2 separate regions of the Homo sapiens genome follow, and region 2 is linked to region 1. A link means that fine-mapping ties the variant in region 1 to the expression of a gene that starts in the linked region. Tissue or cell type: whole blood. Region 1 holds a variant in brackets; the other region holds the start of a gene. All regions are shown on one strand. Distances are between the middles of the regions.

What was found. PIP is the estimated chance that this variant, and not a neighbour inherited with it, causes the effect.
Region 2: it holds the start of TRANK1, and the variant in region 1 is fine-mapped to the expression of TRANK1 in whole blood (TOPMed, PIP above 0.99).

What each region holds. Positions count from the first base shown.
Region 1 is chr3:36,904,345-36,912,448 of GRCh38, reverse strand. TRANK1 (tetratricopeptide repeat and ankyrin repeat containing 1) reads left to right here. Exons shown (of 24, transcript NM_001329998.2): 2 at 3,995-4,126. Among named protein-coding and RNA genes, the nearest start is that of TRANK1, 37 kb to the left of the region's middle. RefSeq lists a silencer at 1,668-1,836 and enhancers at 4,006-4,155, 4,166-4,485, 4,506-4,555. The variant C/A (reference allele first, on the strand shown) is at 3,978.
Region 2 is chr3:36,940,801-36,948,904 of GRCh38, reverse strand. TRANK1 (tetratricopeptide repeat and ankyrin repeat containing 1) reads left to right here and starts at 3,851. Exons shown (of 24, transcript NM_001329998.2): 1 at 3,851-4,118. The coding sequence starts at 4,096. RefSeq lists an enhancer at 3,684-3,753 and a silencer at 3,984-4,203.

The DNA.
Region 1 (8,104 bases):
CAGGGTAGAGTGCTCAGTGCCAGCCAAAATATAAGATACCCTAGTGATTTTACTGGGTGCTGATCTTTTAGCCTCTGTCTTGGCCCTTCAGAGTGTAGTTTGGCTCTTAAAGTGAGGCCACCTAGGTTGGAATTCTCACATTACCAATTTCAGTGTGACTGTGGCAAGTGGTAAGTGGCTTAACCTGTCTTTGCTTCACTTTCCTTATGTGCAAAATAGAGATAGAGTCACGCTGACCTTATAGCACTTTTTTTTTTTTTTGACAGAGTCTCACTCTGTTGCCCAGGCTGGAATGCAGTGGCTTGATCTCAGCTCACTACAACCTGCATCTCCTGGGCTTAAGTGATTCTCGTGCCTCAGCTTCCTGAGTAGCTGGGGCTATAGGCATGCACTACCATGCCTGGCTAATTTTTGTATATTTTTAGTAGAGATGGGGGTTTCACCATGTTGGCCAGGCTGGTCTCGAACTCCTGACCTCAGCTAATCTGCCTGCTTCGGCCTCCCAAAATGTTGGGTTTACAGGCGTGAGCCACTGTGCCTGGCCGAGGCTTCTTATAAGAATGAAAAGACACAATGATGTAAAGCACATAGTAGGTACTTAGCAGATATTAGCTATGAAGAATATTGTCATTATGGTAAATTATTACCACTTTTATTTAATAATTTCATCTTATAAATAAATCATCAGTTGGTCAGTTTTTTCTTTTTTTTAAAGACCCAACAACGGAGCCATCTGTATTCTATTGTAGAGATATAAAGCATTCTTCCGTGTAATGAGAATGTAACTCTCAATGAATCCTATTAGGAAGAAAAAAGCCTTCTGTATGGTTGGCATTCCTTCTTTCACCTTTGATGTGATTGTATCAATAAAAAGCAGAAACATAGGTGGGTGAATACATTTGTTGTTGCTCACATAACATTAAGAGCTGACTTGGTTTCTAGAGAACTATGAAAAATAATATTGAAATGAAGAGTTTTTTTTTTGTATTTGTAAATACAATGGAAATACCTTGTGTTTGAATTCTTCAGTTAAACCCTTAAAGAGTCTGTTTGATAACATTTATGGTCTGATTAGTAAGAGGGTACATCGTAGAGTGATTGGAAATTCAGAAAATCAAGGAAGAAAATTAAAATTCTGTCAAATCCCAAAGGCGTGGCTTTTAACATTTTGGCATATTTTCAATACATTTTATGTATTTAAAACAATTTGGGATTATATGCCTTTTCAACCTTATAGGCCTATATTTTTCATTTACTAACTTGCTCTGTCATTAAATGTTCTTTTACAATATGCCTTTTCAACCGTATAGGCCTGTATTTTTCATTTACTAACTTGCTCTGTCATTAAATGTTCTTTTACAACACGATTTTTTTTTTTCCAGATGGAGTTAGCGCTTGTCACCCAGGCTGGAGTGCAGTGGCGTGATCTTGGCTCACTGCAACCTCTGCCTTCCGGGTTCAAGCAATTCTCCTGCCTCAGTCTCCCAAGAAGCTGCGATTACAGGTGCTCACCACTATGCCTGGCTAATTTCTGCAGTTTTAGTAAAGACGGGGTTTCACCATGTTGGCCGGGCTGGTCTCGAACTCCTGGCCTCAGGTGATCCGCCCGCCTCAGCTGATCAGCCTCCTAAAGTGCTGGGATTACAGGCATGAGCCAGCGCACTGGGTCTTTTGCAACATGATTTTATTTTATTTTATTTTATTTTTTGGAGATAGAGTCTCACTCTGTCACCCAGGCTGGAGTGTAGTGGTGTGATCTTGGCTCACTGCAACCTCTCCCTCCTGGGTTCAAGCGATTCTCCTGCCTCAGCCTCCCGAGTAGCTGGGATTACAGGTGCGTGCCACCGCACCTGTCTGATTTTTGTATTTTTAGAAGACATGGCGTTTCATCATGTTGGCCAGGCTGGACTCGAACTCCTGACCTCAGGTGGTCTGCCCGCCTCAGCCTCCCAAAGTGCTGGGATTACAGGTGTGAGCCACTGTGCCCAGCCACAACATGATTTTAAAAATAACTGTGTGTTGTTCTAACATACGGATCTTCTATAACTGATTTAAACCCATTATATATTATGGAACATTTAGAGTTATTTCCAAGTTTTCGAGGTGGTGAACATCCATGAGGCTAAACCTATTTATGATGTATTCTATTTCCTCTGTAAGCAGTGTCCCCAACATTTCGTGTCATTCTTTTAATTATTTTCCAATGATATTTTGTTGTTCAATTTTTGATTTACTTATGCACTAGTGAGGGTGATCCTATTTACCCACTTTTCATATATTTAGTAGCAATTACTTGGTGTTTCTTTGTGAATTGTTTCTTAGGACCCTTATACATTTTGGTGAGAATGTTGGTCTTTTCTTGCAGTGGAAAGCTATTTATAACGGAGGGATATGAACTCTTTGTCAGTTATTGCAACAATTTTCTTGTTTCAGTTGTTTGACCATGGCCAGCTTAAAGAATATTTATTGGACAAATGGCCGACAATATTTGAAAGAAAAGCATACTTTATTCCCTAGTACATAGCTCTTTACATTTTTTCATGTTCTTCTTAGTCATCTCTGTGTAAATAGTAGTCATATAATTTAGAGATTACTACATGAAAAGCATAGGTAGAGTTCAGTATTCTGACTTAAGAGTCATGTGTCTCATTCTGTTAAAGCTCTGCTTAAGAAGTGGAGTACAGTTCAAAAACCCCATTCCCAAGAAGTCAAATTGTTTAAAATAAATCACCACTTATGTGTGCTTGGGTCTGTTTCCCCCTCTGACCCCTTACTTGGATTTAAAATGATAAAATTAATAATTACTGTCTCTCCAAGAATTGTGTTGGTCATCAAGACACCTAAGAAATTTTATGACCCCATAGGTACATGTCATCTGTGAACACCTGAAACTGTCCACATATTTAAGACCTACCCTACCCTACCAATTTGCCTTTCCCTCTGCCATCTTGAGAGGAAGCAATACTAAAGGACCTCTTCTCTGACCCCCACCTTTTCCCTGTCTCCTTGGCAGCTGCTTCTTAAGATCTTCCTGGGTGCTCTCCTCTCCTGCCTTTGTTCAGCACACTTACCAAGGCCCCCCATGTGGTCAGGGCTGCCAGGCAGTTCTCTCCAACCACCCAGGCCACACTGGAGAAAATCAGTAATGTGCGTCTTCTCTGGGTCTGGCATTCAATTGTTACACCACAGATATTTAAGTACCCCTTATGTTCAAGGCCATACGGCTACAAAACTTAACAAAATAGGGGTTTGACCTGAAAGAGGCAAATACCCTTGGGGGACACAGACAAGTAGGCAGGCAATGGCTGTCTCAGGGACAAATATTTCAAGGCTTATTTTATAGTGTTTTAAGAAAGGAGGGGGACAGGAGAGACAGTGGTTGTGTCTCTGTGTCCTAGCCACTTGCATACTGAGGCCTTCACCTGCCCTCCCTGTTCCATCTGCTAAGAGAGTGGAAGTACTATCAGCTGAGTTTTTACCAATACGTGATGTGGTACAGTGGTCAAGAGCAGAAACTAGAAATTGGTCAGATCTGGGGTCAGAAATGGGAAATGCCATCAGCAGATTTTTAGGCAAGTGACTTGAACCTCTGAGCCTCAGTTTCCTCATCTGAACAGTGGGGACAATGCCTTCCTGTGGGCTGTGATGATGGGTAAATGAGATTAATAATAATGCCAGTTACAGGGATAGCACTCACTACCTGCCAGGTTTATGTTGTCTCATGCATGGAAGCAGCCTCCTCCAGATCATTAATGCTGAATAAATGGAATTGGTCTGGCCACCCTTGAGAACAGAAAAGAACTGACAAAGAAATAGTCTTGTCAGACACTCTGCCTGGTTTCCTGGTGGTGAGAGGTGTTGCCAAGATGTGCCCTTTGAAGGTGGGTGGGGCCATAGTGAGCGAACTCCTTCTCCAGATTTCAGCAATGCAGACCGGAAGGTGAACATGCCCTGCACGGGTCTGGCAGCAAGCGTCT[C/A]CCCCGTCTCCTCACAGGATGGACCTGACAGCTTACGCTGAGCTGCTGAAAGAATCCGGCAACCAGGTTCTTAAGAATGGGAACTTCTCTTTGGCCATCAGAAAGTACGATGAAGCCATCCAGATTCTCCTGCAGTTATACCAGTGGGGGTAAGTGTTTGCATTTTCACCTCATCTTTTCTTTTTCAGTACATGGGACTCTGTTCCTTATGATTTCTTTTCATTTCTTATCATTCCACCCTGTTTCTGTTTTCTTTATTGCTCACTTCCTATTTATCTTCTCTGCATTGTCAGCTTAGAAGTGAACAGGGATTGTGTAAGAAGGGAAATAGAAAGTGAAACATAGAGGACTGTTGATAAACATAACAAAACTTCCCGTTCTGGCTGGCTAGGGGTCAGATTTAATGGGATGGCTGAAGTCTTCGAACAAACCTCTTCGTTGTCATTCATTTCATCTTCTTTATTATCTATGCCATTTACTCCGTGGCCACAGCGCACACCCCGCCGGGCACTAAGGTTCACTTTCTCTTTCCTTGCCCCTTCAGCTTCTTACAGACCTGTTCTCAAACATTGTAGTATCACAACATGCTTAAACATTGCTGAGGACCCTAAAGAGCTTCTTCTGTTTATGTAGGCTGTAGCTGTCAATACAGTATGGTAGAACTTAAAACTGATAAAAAAATAAAATATGTATTTATTTAAAAATATTGGCCGGGTGCGGTGGCTCATGCCTGTAATCCCAGCACTTTGGGAGGCCGAGGTGGGCAGATCACGAGGTCAGGAGATCGAGACCATCCTGGCTAACAGGGTGAAACCCCATCTCTATTAAAAATACAACAGATTAGCCGGGTGTGGTGGTGGGCACCTGTAGTCCCAGCTACTCCGGAGGGTGAGGCAGGAGAATAGCGTGAACCCGGGAGGTGGAGCTTGCAGTGAGCCGAGATTACGCCACTGCACTCCATCCTGGGCGACAGAGCCAGACTCCGTCTCAAAAAAAAAAAAAAAAAAAAAAATCAATAAATTTGCTGGGTAGAGTGGCTCAAACCTGTAATCCCAGCACTTTGGGAGGCCGAGGCGGTCAGATCACCTGACTTCAGGAGTTCAAGACCAGCCTGGCCAACATGGTGAAACCCCATCTCTACTAAAAATACAAAATTAGCTGGGCGTAGTGGCGCACGCCTGTAATCCCAGCTACTTGGGAGGCTGAGGCAGGAGAATCGCTTGATCGTGGGAGGCAGATGTTACAGCGAGCCGAGATCGTGCCATTGAACTCTGGCCTCGGTGACAAGAGTGAAACTCTGTCTCAAAAATAAATAAATAAATATATCAGTAAATCTATTACATGTTGTATTTTTAAAGTATATTTTCCAAAACAAAAACTTGTACATTTTTGTAAATCTCCTTCTTAATGTCTTGTCTCCACAGAAGACAGCTGGCTTCTTACATCTGTATTCAGTCTGTTGCAATATCACATGTCATATGGCTTCTGGAAAACTCCCTGTGTGAGTGTGAGGGAATGAGTATGAACAAGGCACATTATGTCTTAATTATTGTATTAGTTTCCTGTTGCTGCTGTAGCAAGTTACCACCAATTTAGGGCTTAAAGCAATACAAATTTTTTCTCTTGCAATTCTGAAGATCAGAAGTTCTAAATGAGTCTAATGGGGCTAAAATCAAGGTGTTAGCAGGGCTGGTTCTTTGTGGAGGCTCTGAGGGGGAGAAGGCACTTCCTTGCCTTTCTCAGCTTTGAGTGGCGGTGTGTATTCTTTGGCTTGTGGCTCCTTCCTTTATCTTCAAAGCTTATCATTCCAATCTCTGCTTCTGTCATCACCTTGCCTTCTCCTCAGCTGTGCTTCTGTCTCCCTCTGTCTCTCTCGATCATAGGGACCCTTGTGATTTTATCATAATTCAGGATAATCTCCTATTCCTAAAATCCTTAAATTGATCACATCTGCTACATCATTTGTTAATCACAAAAGTTTGTCTTTTTCCATAAAAAGAACAGTATTTGGGGGCCATTATTCAGCTTACCACAACTGTGAAAGTATTTTCACCTTGTGGATCACCTGCAGTGGCCTTGAGGGTCCCCAGAAGTTCCCAGATCATCCTTTTGGAACAGCTGCAGTAGAGCGAGCAGATGTTGGCATCTGTAGGGTGCACACAACCTAAACTTGTGCTAGGAAATGGCACCAAATTAAATTACTGAAACACGGCTCCACCTCCCCCTCCCATCTCCTTGATGTCTACACTCTAGTTGAGGTTGAGTTGAGTGTAATTAGCTTGTGTCTGTAGTTTCTGCAGTTCTGCCTTGTCCTGGTACATATCAGAATTGTGTCAGAGCTGGGTCTAGAGATCCTCGATCAAGGCAAACATTCAGCTTTCTTAGAAAGAGGTAGTATTGTGTAGTGTTTATGGTTGTAGACTGACCCCACACTATGTGTGTTCAAAGCTCAGCTCCACCACTTACTGTGTGACCCCTACTGGGACTTCTGCCTGGACCCTCATGTTGCCTTTTGTGGGACCTTCCTGACACTGTTCCCCTTGCCCATCACCTGCTGCTGGCCTTCCTGCCACAGCTAGCTAACACTGAGACTCAGGTGCATGTGATTTACAGCGTACTTGCAGGAGAAAGGGGACTGAGGGAGGCAGGATGGCACAAGGAAGGCTCTAAGCAGGGATGGTGTCTAAACCAAGCAAGATTTGCCTGATCCCATAGGCAGCTCTGGAGCATGAATCATACTGCAGAGCTGGTTCCATCTTGAGGCAAGGAGGTTAACCTTTTGATTCTCATATCAGTCAGTCACTGGTTTTAGGCTGTCTGGCTCCCGGCAGTCATCCTAGGGAGTGGGCTATATTAGTCTGCTTGCGCTACCATAACAAAATAGCACAGACTGGGTGGCTTAAACAACAGAAATTTATTTTTCAAAGTTCTACAGGCTGGGAAGTCCAAGATCAAGCTGCCCCCTGTGAGGGCTGTCTTCCTGGCTTGTAGATGGTTGCCTTCTCACTGTGTTACGTGCAAAGAGGAGAGAGCAAGCTCTCCAGCGTCTCTTCTTATTCCATTGTGAGGACTCCACCCTCATGACCTCAGCTAAACATAATTACCTCCCAATGGTTCCATGTTCAAATATTGTCACATTGAGGGGTAGGGCTTCAACCCAGGGATTTTTTTTTTTTTTTTTGAGACAGAGTCTTGCTCTGTCTCCCAGGCTAGAGTGCAACGGCACGATCTCGGCTCACTGCAAGCTCCGCCGCCTCCCGGGTTCACGCCATTCTCCTGCCTCAGCCTCCCGAGTAGCTGGGACTACAGGCACCTGCCACCACGCCCGGCTAATTTTTTGTATTTTTAGTAGAGATGGGGTTTCACCGTGTTAGCCGGGATGGTCTCGATCTCCTGACCTCGTGATCCGCCCGCTCGGCCTCCTAAAGTGCTGGGATTACAGGCATGAGCCACTGTGCCCGGCCTACCCAGGGATTTTTTTTTTTTTGGCAGTTGGGGATGGGGGAAGTTCAGTCCCTAGTATGGGTGTAACTTCCTGGGGAGAGGGTAGCTCTCATTAGGCTGAGGATAAATCTCTGGAGAACAGGGTGCTGAGAACCTCTAGCTGCAGCCAACAGACATTGCAGCTGGGAATGGCTGCACTGGCCAGAGTGTCTGGGATGGACACCATGGCATCTCTTACACTTGCGGTCACTGCTCCCTTGCTGATCCCTCACTGCCTGACCCCACTGCCTCCTGTGTGCTTCTGGGGCCTCATCCCTTCACCTAGAGGGAATGTTGGGCCATGAAAGAAGCCAGACACAAAACATCGAGGGTGGGGACAGTAATGGAGGTGATTTTTCCTTTGTTTATTAATATTTTTGTGCTTGTCTGCATTATCTACAGTGATTTTTGTATTATTCTACAGTGATTTGTATTATTTTTACGATTAAGATTTTTTTTTTTCTTTTTTTGAGACGGAGTCTTGCTGTGTTGCCAGGCTGGAGTGCAGTGGTGCGATCTTGGCTCACTGAAATCTCCTCCTCCTGGGTTCAAACGATTCTCCTGCCTCAGCCTGCCATGTAGCTGGGACTACAGGTGCACCCCACCACACCCAGATAATTTTTTTGTATTTTAGTAGAGATGGG
Region 2 (8,104 bases), 36 kb before region 1:
CAAAACAAAAACAAAAACAAAAACAAAAACAAAACAAAAAAAAAGATGGAAAACAGGAGAGAAGTGATTTGAAAATTAAGCAACTGTATCACAGAGATCAGTCCTGGAAGTTCAATATCCTGAATAATAGGATTAAAAAGAGAGAGGGAGAGAAAGAAAATGGAAAAAAAAAATCAATAAAATAATTCAAGATATTTTCCCAGACTGAAGAGCTTGAGTGTTGAGACTGAAATAACCCACGCAGTACCCAGTGGAATCAATGAATGGGCCCACATCAAAGCAGATCATTGTGTAATTTCAAAACACTGGGGAGGAAAAGAAGATTCTTCATGCTTCCAGAGATTTAAAAAAGAAGAGGTCCTATAAAAAGATTGATGACTGATGCTTGAACCCAGGAGGCAGAGGTTGTAGTGAACTGAGACTGCACCATTGCACTCCAGCCTGGGTGACAGAGCGAGACTCTGTCTCTAAATAAATAGATAAGATTGATGATTGAATGTTTTCAGAATTCCCAACAGCAGTACTGGAAGCTAGAAGTCACTGAAGTAATAGCTTCAGAATTCTGAAGGAAAATGATTTCTATTTTTTTTTTGTTGAGACAAAGTCTCCCTCTGTTGCTGAGGCTGGAGTGCAGTGGCATGATCTTGGCTCACTGCAGCCTCCACCTCCTGGGTTCAAGTGATTCTCCTGCCTCAGCCTCCGGAGTAGCTGAGATTACAAGTGCCCACCACCACGACTGGCTAATTTTTGTATTTTTGGTAGAGACAGGTTTTCACCATGTTGGCCAAGCTGGTCTTGAACTCCTGACCTCAGGTGATCTGCCTGTCTCAGCTTCCCAAAGTGCTGGGATTACAGGTGTGAGCCACCACGCCCGGTAGAAAATGATTTCTAGCTGATAATTTTATACCCAGCCAAACTATATTAAGGATAAAGGTTTTCAGACAAGCACAGTCTCAAAAATTTTACCTGATCATGCATAAAACTGAGGGGAAAAAAGCCCCAACAACAAGAAGTAGCAATACAAACGTTATTTAGAGACATGAGCATAGGCATCAAAATAATCAGCTGAAAGATGTAAAAGTGGTTGTTTCTAGGGAAGAAGTCAGGTGGAAGGGAAAAAGGGGCCTGCTCTTTTTATTTATTTATTTTTTATTTTATTTTTATGATTGTTTATTGAGATGGAGTCTCGCTCTGTTACCCAGGCTGGAGTGCAGTGGCATGATCTCGGCTCACTGCAACCTCCACCTCCCAGGTTCAAGCGATTCTCCTGCCTCAGTCTCCAGAGTAGCTGGGATTACAGGCATGCGCCACCATGCCCAGCTAATTTTTGTATTTTTAGTAGAAATGGGGTTTTACCATGGTGGTCAGGCTGGTCTTGAACTCCTGACTCAGGGGATCTGCTTACCTGGGACTCCCAAAATACTGGGATTACAGGCATGAGCCACCACGCCTGGCTGAGGCCTGCTCTTTTAACTGTGAATGTATAACTGATAAAAATATAAAAATAGAAGACAGAGAAGAAACAGTTTTAAAAAGAAAGATAACATACTGACGTGACTTTTGAGGATTATGGTGAAGATATCCAAAGAAGATGTATGACAACAAGATTTTGAGATGCTTATGAAAACTAGTGAAAGAGTGGTCAAAGTGTAAACGGACTTTTTGGTTTTTTTAAATCCTCCTCTCTTCACCAATCCCTTGGCTTGCTCTCTTTGATGTAAGAACCTGGCTAGGCTTTCTGGAAGTAGACTCCTTGAAGTTGGCAAAAATAACAACAACAACAACAACAAAACAAAATAACCCCCCAAAACAAAAAGAAAAACAAAAAACCCCAAAACCAAAAATATCTCCGAAACCAAAAAATACCCCGCAACCAAAAAACCCCAAACCAAAACCAAACCAAACCAAAACCCAAACTGAACAAACCCAAAAATCACCAACAGAAAGAGGTATGCTAGAAGAGGTGGCATGTGCTTTCCTAAATATAGAATTGGGGGATGTTGGGAAAAGTATTGGAGGAAGGATATGGAAAGTATCCTAAAAGTGAAAGGACCAATGATGTCTGGGAAATAGCAAGTAGTCCAACTATTTGGTGGCTAGCAGTGATTCTCAAACTTTGCAGCATGTTATAGTCTTTTAAAAATCCTGATGTGGCTGGGTGTGGTGGCTTGCACCTATAATTCCAGCACTTGGGGAAGCCTAAGTGGGTGGATCACTTGAGGTCATGGGTTTGAGACCAGCCTGTCTAACATGGTGAAACCCCGCCTCTACTAAAAATCTAAAAAATTCAGCCGGGCAAGGCGGCGGGCACCTGTAATCCCAGTTACTCAGGAGGCTGAGGCAGGAGAATCACCTGAACAACAGAGTGAGACTGTCTCAAAACAAAAACAAAAACAAAAATTCCTGACGCCCATGTCAATTAGACAATTTGGGAGTAAAAGCCAAACATACGCATATTTTTGGGTTTTTTTTTTTTTTTTTGTATTTTTAGTAGAGATGGGGTTTCTCCATGTTGGTCTGGCTGGTCTCAAACTCCCGACCTCAGGTGATCCGCCTGCCTCAGGCTTCCAAAGTGCTGGGATTACGGGTGTGAGCCACCCGCCCGGCCTTGTTTTTGTTTTTAAGCTCCCCAGGTGATTCTATTGTGTAACTAAGGTTGGGAAGCACTGCAGTATAGAGTTTGCATGAGGAAGCTAAGATTGGAAATGTGGGGCAAGATTGTGAAGAAGAATCTCAAATGCCCGGGTACCTAACCTGATCTCTAGGAGACAATGGAGTGCCACTGATGGCTTTTGAACTGTACGTGATTCATCCTGATGTTTGGGGAAGATCAATGCACAGAAATCTCTGTGAGATTCTAGAAGCAAGGAGACCACTAGCTAGACTGAGACTAGTTCACAACGCAGAATGACCAGTGGAGAGAAGTATACTGTGTGCCTTAGGTGTGTCCACGTGTTACCAAAGCCTCTCTGTTTCGCTGAAATGTGTGGTCCCCCTCACTAAAGCTCTGGTGGTGTCCTCCCTGCCACCAGGCAGCCTGGTGTGGTGGTCCCCCAGAAGGATGGGCGAACCACCGGGATGCAGTGTAGGCCGAACCTTGCCCCAGGGGAGGGCGGCGGGCTTAGCTCTCTGATTGGGTGGATTCTCTGGTGTGTAGGAAAGTACTCCCAGGCCCAGAGAAGCTGTGAAGACCAAACCGGCTCCCTAGGCCGAGAACCGCTGGGGAGGTAGCAGCCAGAGGTGGTCCTCTCCGACCCACTACTCTGTCGATCATCACTGGGGAGGTGGAAAGACAAGGCAAGATCCTCATTTTGTTGCCTGCTCAGGCCTGTGCGCACTTACTCTCCATGGACACGACGGTGAGCGTGGAGCAGCCCGCGGTCTCGCTGCCCCCTTCACTCCCGGACCCCCAGCCTCCCCAGAGTGGAGGGGCAAGCACACAGTAAGTACTTGATATTCGCCCGACTCCTGAGCTCCTCATCTGTAGGAGCTAGGGGGCTTGTTCTCCGTACGTCCTTTGTTGGAGGGAGGAACGAGGGAAGGAGAAAACCCACGCTGAGGCCGTTGGCCGATCACTTTCTTTACCTCCCGGACAACATTGATGGGCCCCACTAAGGAAAGCCGAATTCTCGCATGCCCGAGGAGTGTCGGAGGTGGTTGTGCGCCTAGTCCCTCCTGGTAAAGGGTTCGAAGCACTCGTTTATTCAAAGGCGGCCGAGAGCCATACCATTTGCTTGCATGACGGGAGACACCGAAACGCCCCTTTTGAACGCGATGACAAACACCTCCTCCCACTCAGCAGCGACGTGCACGTGACAGTTTTTGGGCTCTCGCAACTACGTGGAAACTTGGAATAGGTCTGCGGCTGCACACCGCCCGGACGCCGGGGTTCCTGCGTCCCCCGCCCCCTCTGATCGCGGCTGGGTAGCCGAGCCGCAGGCAGCTGGGGGCCCCCGAACGCCGCCTCTGCATCGCGCCGCCCCTGCCCCGGGCTCCGGTAGCTTTCGGGCTTCCGCACTGCCCGCCGCGCCCTGCCCACAGGGAAGCGCTTCCCCAGGCGGCGGCGGTCCTGGTGCGGACCCTCCGGCCGCAGCCATGTGGGACCCGCGGGCAGCTAGGTGCGTAGCGGCGCGGGAAGCACTGGGGCATCTCTGGCCTTCCGGGCCCGCCACCCTTCCTGGCGGGAGGCGGCCGCGCGCGGGGACTGGCGACCCTGAGGTAGCGGCCGAACGGGCCCGCCCGGCCATCCCTGTGGGGCCCACAGCCATCTAGGTGCAGACCCGAGCCAGTTGCGCGGGGTCGGTCGCGGGGGACGGCTTCGGCCTTTTCGGTCCGGAGGGACCAGGGCACGCGCTGCGACAGGACTGCGGCGGCGCGCGGCCTGCCTAGCTCCCACCCCGGCATCGAAGCCGCAGCTCTCGGGCCCACCTCCGCATCCTCAGGGGTTCCCGGGGGCTGCCGACAGGTTCCTGACCAGCGAGCGCGCCCCCGGGGCAAGCATTCTTGGCGGGCAGAAACCTGGGAGCGGAGCACAGCGGTGCAAGGGAACCGTGCCAGGCGGGAAGGGCGGAATTTGCGGGGAACTTGGAGCGCGCTGGCCTCTTCCCGGCAGTAGGAGGCCTTCTTCCCTGCCCGCCCGATTGAGGGCTGCTGGGCTGGCTCAAACTGGACTGCACGGTCCATCAGCCTGGGCTCACCGAGTCTAGGGGGAAGGTAGTAGTAGGGACCCAAGGCTGGGAAGCGGAGCCCTTAGAAGCCCTTGCTTCTGCCTCGGAGCGTTTCCGAACCGGAGCTCGGAGTCTGTTGCCTGGGAGGCGCGTTGCGTTTCCTCCCAACTCCCTGTCTCCGTCCCGCGGGGAGCCCTGTGCACTTGCAACCCGGCTGAGATAGAGCCCATCTTTGAGGTGCAGCTCAAGCCACCTTTTCTCCCAGATCGGGGTGTTTCTGGGCAGTTGAAAGCTTTGGTGCTTCCTAGGAAAATTTTTATGGAAGTGTGCAATTTGGAAAATAAAAGAAAAAAAAATTTAAGAAGCAGAAAGAGAATGGGGCTCTGAGGTCTCTAGTTCCCCTATCTGCTCCAACCCAGTTGCTGCTGGCTCAGTTAGTCCTTATGCGGGAAGGAATAGCTGGGATTAAAGCCTTGTGTTCCCAGCGTAGGTATGCGCTCCTGCTCCCTCGTGCTGAGCGTTTTGGGTTCCAGGATCCTTTTTGATATAAGGCTGTTATCCGGATGGCATCCTGTTTGGTCCTTTATAGAAAAAAAAAAAAAGTACTACGGTGTGTGTGTGTTGGAGGGCGGGGACGGTGGTCAGGAGTTTGTTTCAACTGTTTTCCAGGCAGGTCTGTTTTGTAGGATTGCAGGATAGGTGCTTGAGTTCATATGCTCTTTGTTGGCTTTTGCATCCTCTGCGGGGGGTGGGGGGGTGGGTAGAGGTGGGATAGGTGTGTGTGGCATTCACTCCCAGAGTCGCATCCCACTGCCACTGGCCTATGTATGGGTTTCTAGGTCTTTTTTCGATCAAGACCCACACCCACCCACCTATATGTATATAATGTATATATGCATAATATGTGTGTAATATTATATATACATATATACGCACACACACATACACATGTAAAATTGCAGCAAGAGCTTCATGGTATAGTTATTCTTTCTACAGGGTGAGGCACAATGATATTTTCCATTCTATTCCCTCCCCCCACCCCCCACCAGAGGGATTCTCGCTCTGTCACCCAGGCTGGAGTGCAATGAGGCGATCTCGGCTCACTGCAGCCTCCGCCTCCTGGGTTCAAGCGATTCTCCTGCCGCAGCCTCCGAAATAGCTGGGATTACGGGGGGCCGGGGGTGGGGCGCCACCAAGCCTGACTAATTTTTGTATTTTTAGTGGAGACGGTGTTTCGCCATGTTGGCCATGCTGGTCTCAAACTCCTGATCTCAAGTGATCCACCCGCTTCTGCCTGCCAGAGTGCTGGGATTACACGCCAGAGCCACCACGCCGGCCCATTCTATGTTTTTTTTTTTTTTTTAAAGCGGGTCATAAATTGTTAACTTCACTTTATGACCGACTGACCAGCTTTATGGGGCAACTGCAGGTTCTGTTTCCGCCGCTCTCCCAGAGTATGAGGAGACCGTCAGCATTTCACAGGGGAGTTGACTTTGGAAGTGAGGACTTGGTGTAGGAGTGATGAAGTAGACTGAAATTCATACTTGAGTGATAGAATACTGTAGGACATGGCTGTGTGGTTCAAGCCAGTACCATCTACAAAGACAGACCGCAGATGCTTCTGGTTACTTTGGTTCTGGCTATGTGTCCACAGAGAGCTGGCCTCCTGCATGGATCCCAGTGGGGCCTGGTGTAAATGCTAGGGAGGTAGGGGCATAATAGCTCCTGTTCTTTTTTTTTTTTTTTTTTTTTTTTGAGGAAGAAGAAGGGAAGATGCTGCAACCCTACTGCAGCCTTGGATTCATAGTTTTCTAAAAGGATTCTTTGGGTCTTGTCTCAGAATTTCACAGCTGCAATCAAGAGCTGGACCACGATCATTTTATAGATGAAGAAATTAAGGCCCAGAAAGGCCATCACTTGTTAGTCATTACCAACGAGTTAGTGTTAGATCTGGGATTAGACAACTTATCTCTTGACTTCCCAGTCCATGGCTCTCAGGAACCAAATAGAGACTGGCCTTGTGGAAATATTAAACTTCTATTTGCTGGTTGCTTCTGTTTTCCTGAAGTTACTACCAAAGACCCATTTCTATAGTATATGCCCTCATTATTTTATCTTTGCTTTTGGGGATGAAGATTATTTTAGCAGCCAAGTAGAGCCTGCAGTCCTCCTGTTTGGGGAAGGTAAAGTGATCTGAAGAGGAGGATTTTAAGAACTGAAGTGGAGGTTGAGGTGTGGGCCTCTCTGGCCATTATCAAGTATGTGGTGTTGGTTTTCTTGACCTTAAGGAATGAACCCTCCACTGCATTTCCAGATGGGGAGGTGGGGCTGACATGTCAGTGCTTTGCCCTCAGAGTGACCGCAGGCTCATTGCTTTTAAAACAAATTTCCTTGGAGTGCTGCCTGAGGTTCCCAAGGCCAAAAGCACCCTTGTTAAGAAATCTTTACAGGAAAGAAAGACTTGGGGCAGCAAAGATGACACTGTAACAGTTACAGCAAAGACTGATAGTCGGGCTGGTTACAGCGATGGGGAGAATGGTTAAGTTTAACCTTTAAAAAAGAAAGTATTGAGCCAGATAAACAGGCATCTTTGGAACACAAAAATGTCACAGTGCCCAGCCAAGAGTGATTACTCCTTTGGTCACTCCTTAGGTTAGCAAGGTTCATTCTGCCAGAGCAGACATTTTTCTTGGTCTAAAATTGCATAAGTATTGCCTTGTTTGTTTTTGTTGAAAATCTGGAAATGTGAATGACCTTTGCCTAAGATACCCTGGACTCCGTTTACCTGAATCAATTCCATCTTTTGCTTAGATGCTGAGCCTCACAGTACCTGCCCTGTGCTCACCATAGCATGCTTGTGTGAGCTCCTGTGAGCCTGGTGGGCTGGTGGGACTCCCTGTGTGTCTTTTGGAGCCAAGCCAACTCTGGGTTTAGCTATATCTGTCTTTGAAGTTCCAGCAACATTTTGATTGGGATTTTTTATTTTTTAAGCACTGGGTCCTCCTAGCACTTGGAAAGAGGGCAGTATTCCCAGTCCGAAAAATCAGTGATGGATTTTGGAGGAAACCAGGCCAGTAGTGCACAACACATAAAATATAGAGAATTATAGCACTATATTGGGTGATCTTCATTCACTGGGGCAAGAATGCTCAGACAGCAGCCTTGACATTGGATGGGCTCATCCTTCATGTTCAGCTGTGGCCACCAGGGCAATCATTTTTGCTCACCCTTAGACTAGCTCATCTTCTGCCCATGAAGGTCCACTCTACCTGGAGGCTCAATCACTGATGACTTCTAGGGACTCATTGGCCTGAACTCATTGGCCAGGTACTAAGGCCATCTATAATCTGGCCCCCAGACTGTTTCTCTAATATGGTCTTTCTTCTTGCCTTTTCTCACCCCTTCTTGCTTTTTGTTTTTCAAGTCAGTTCTGCTCC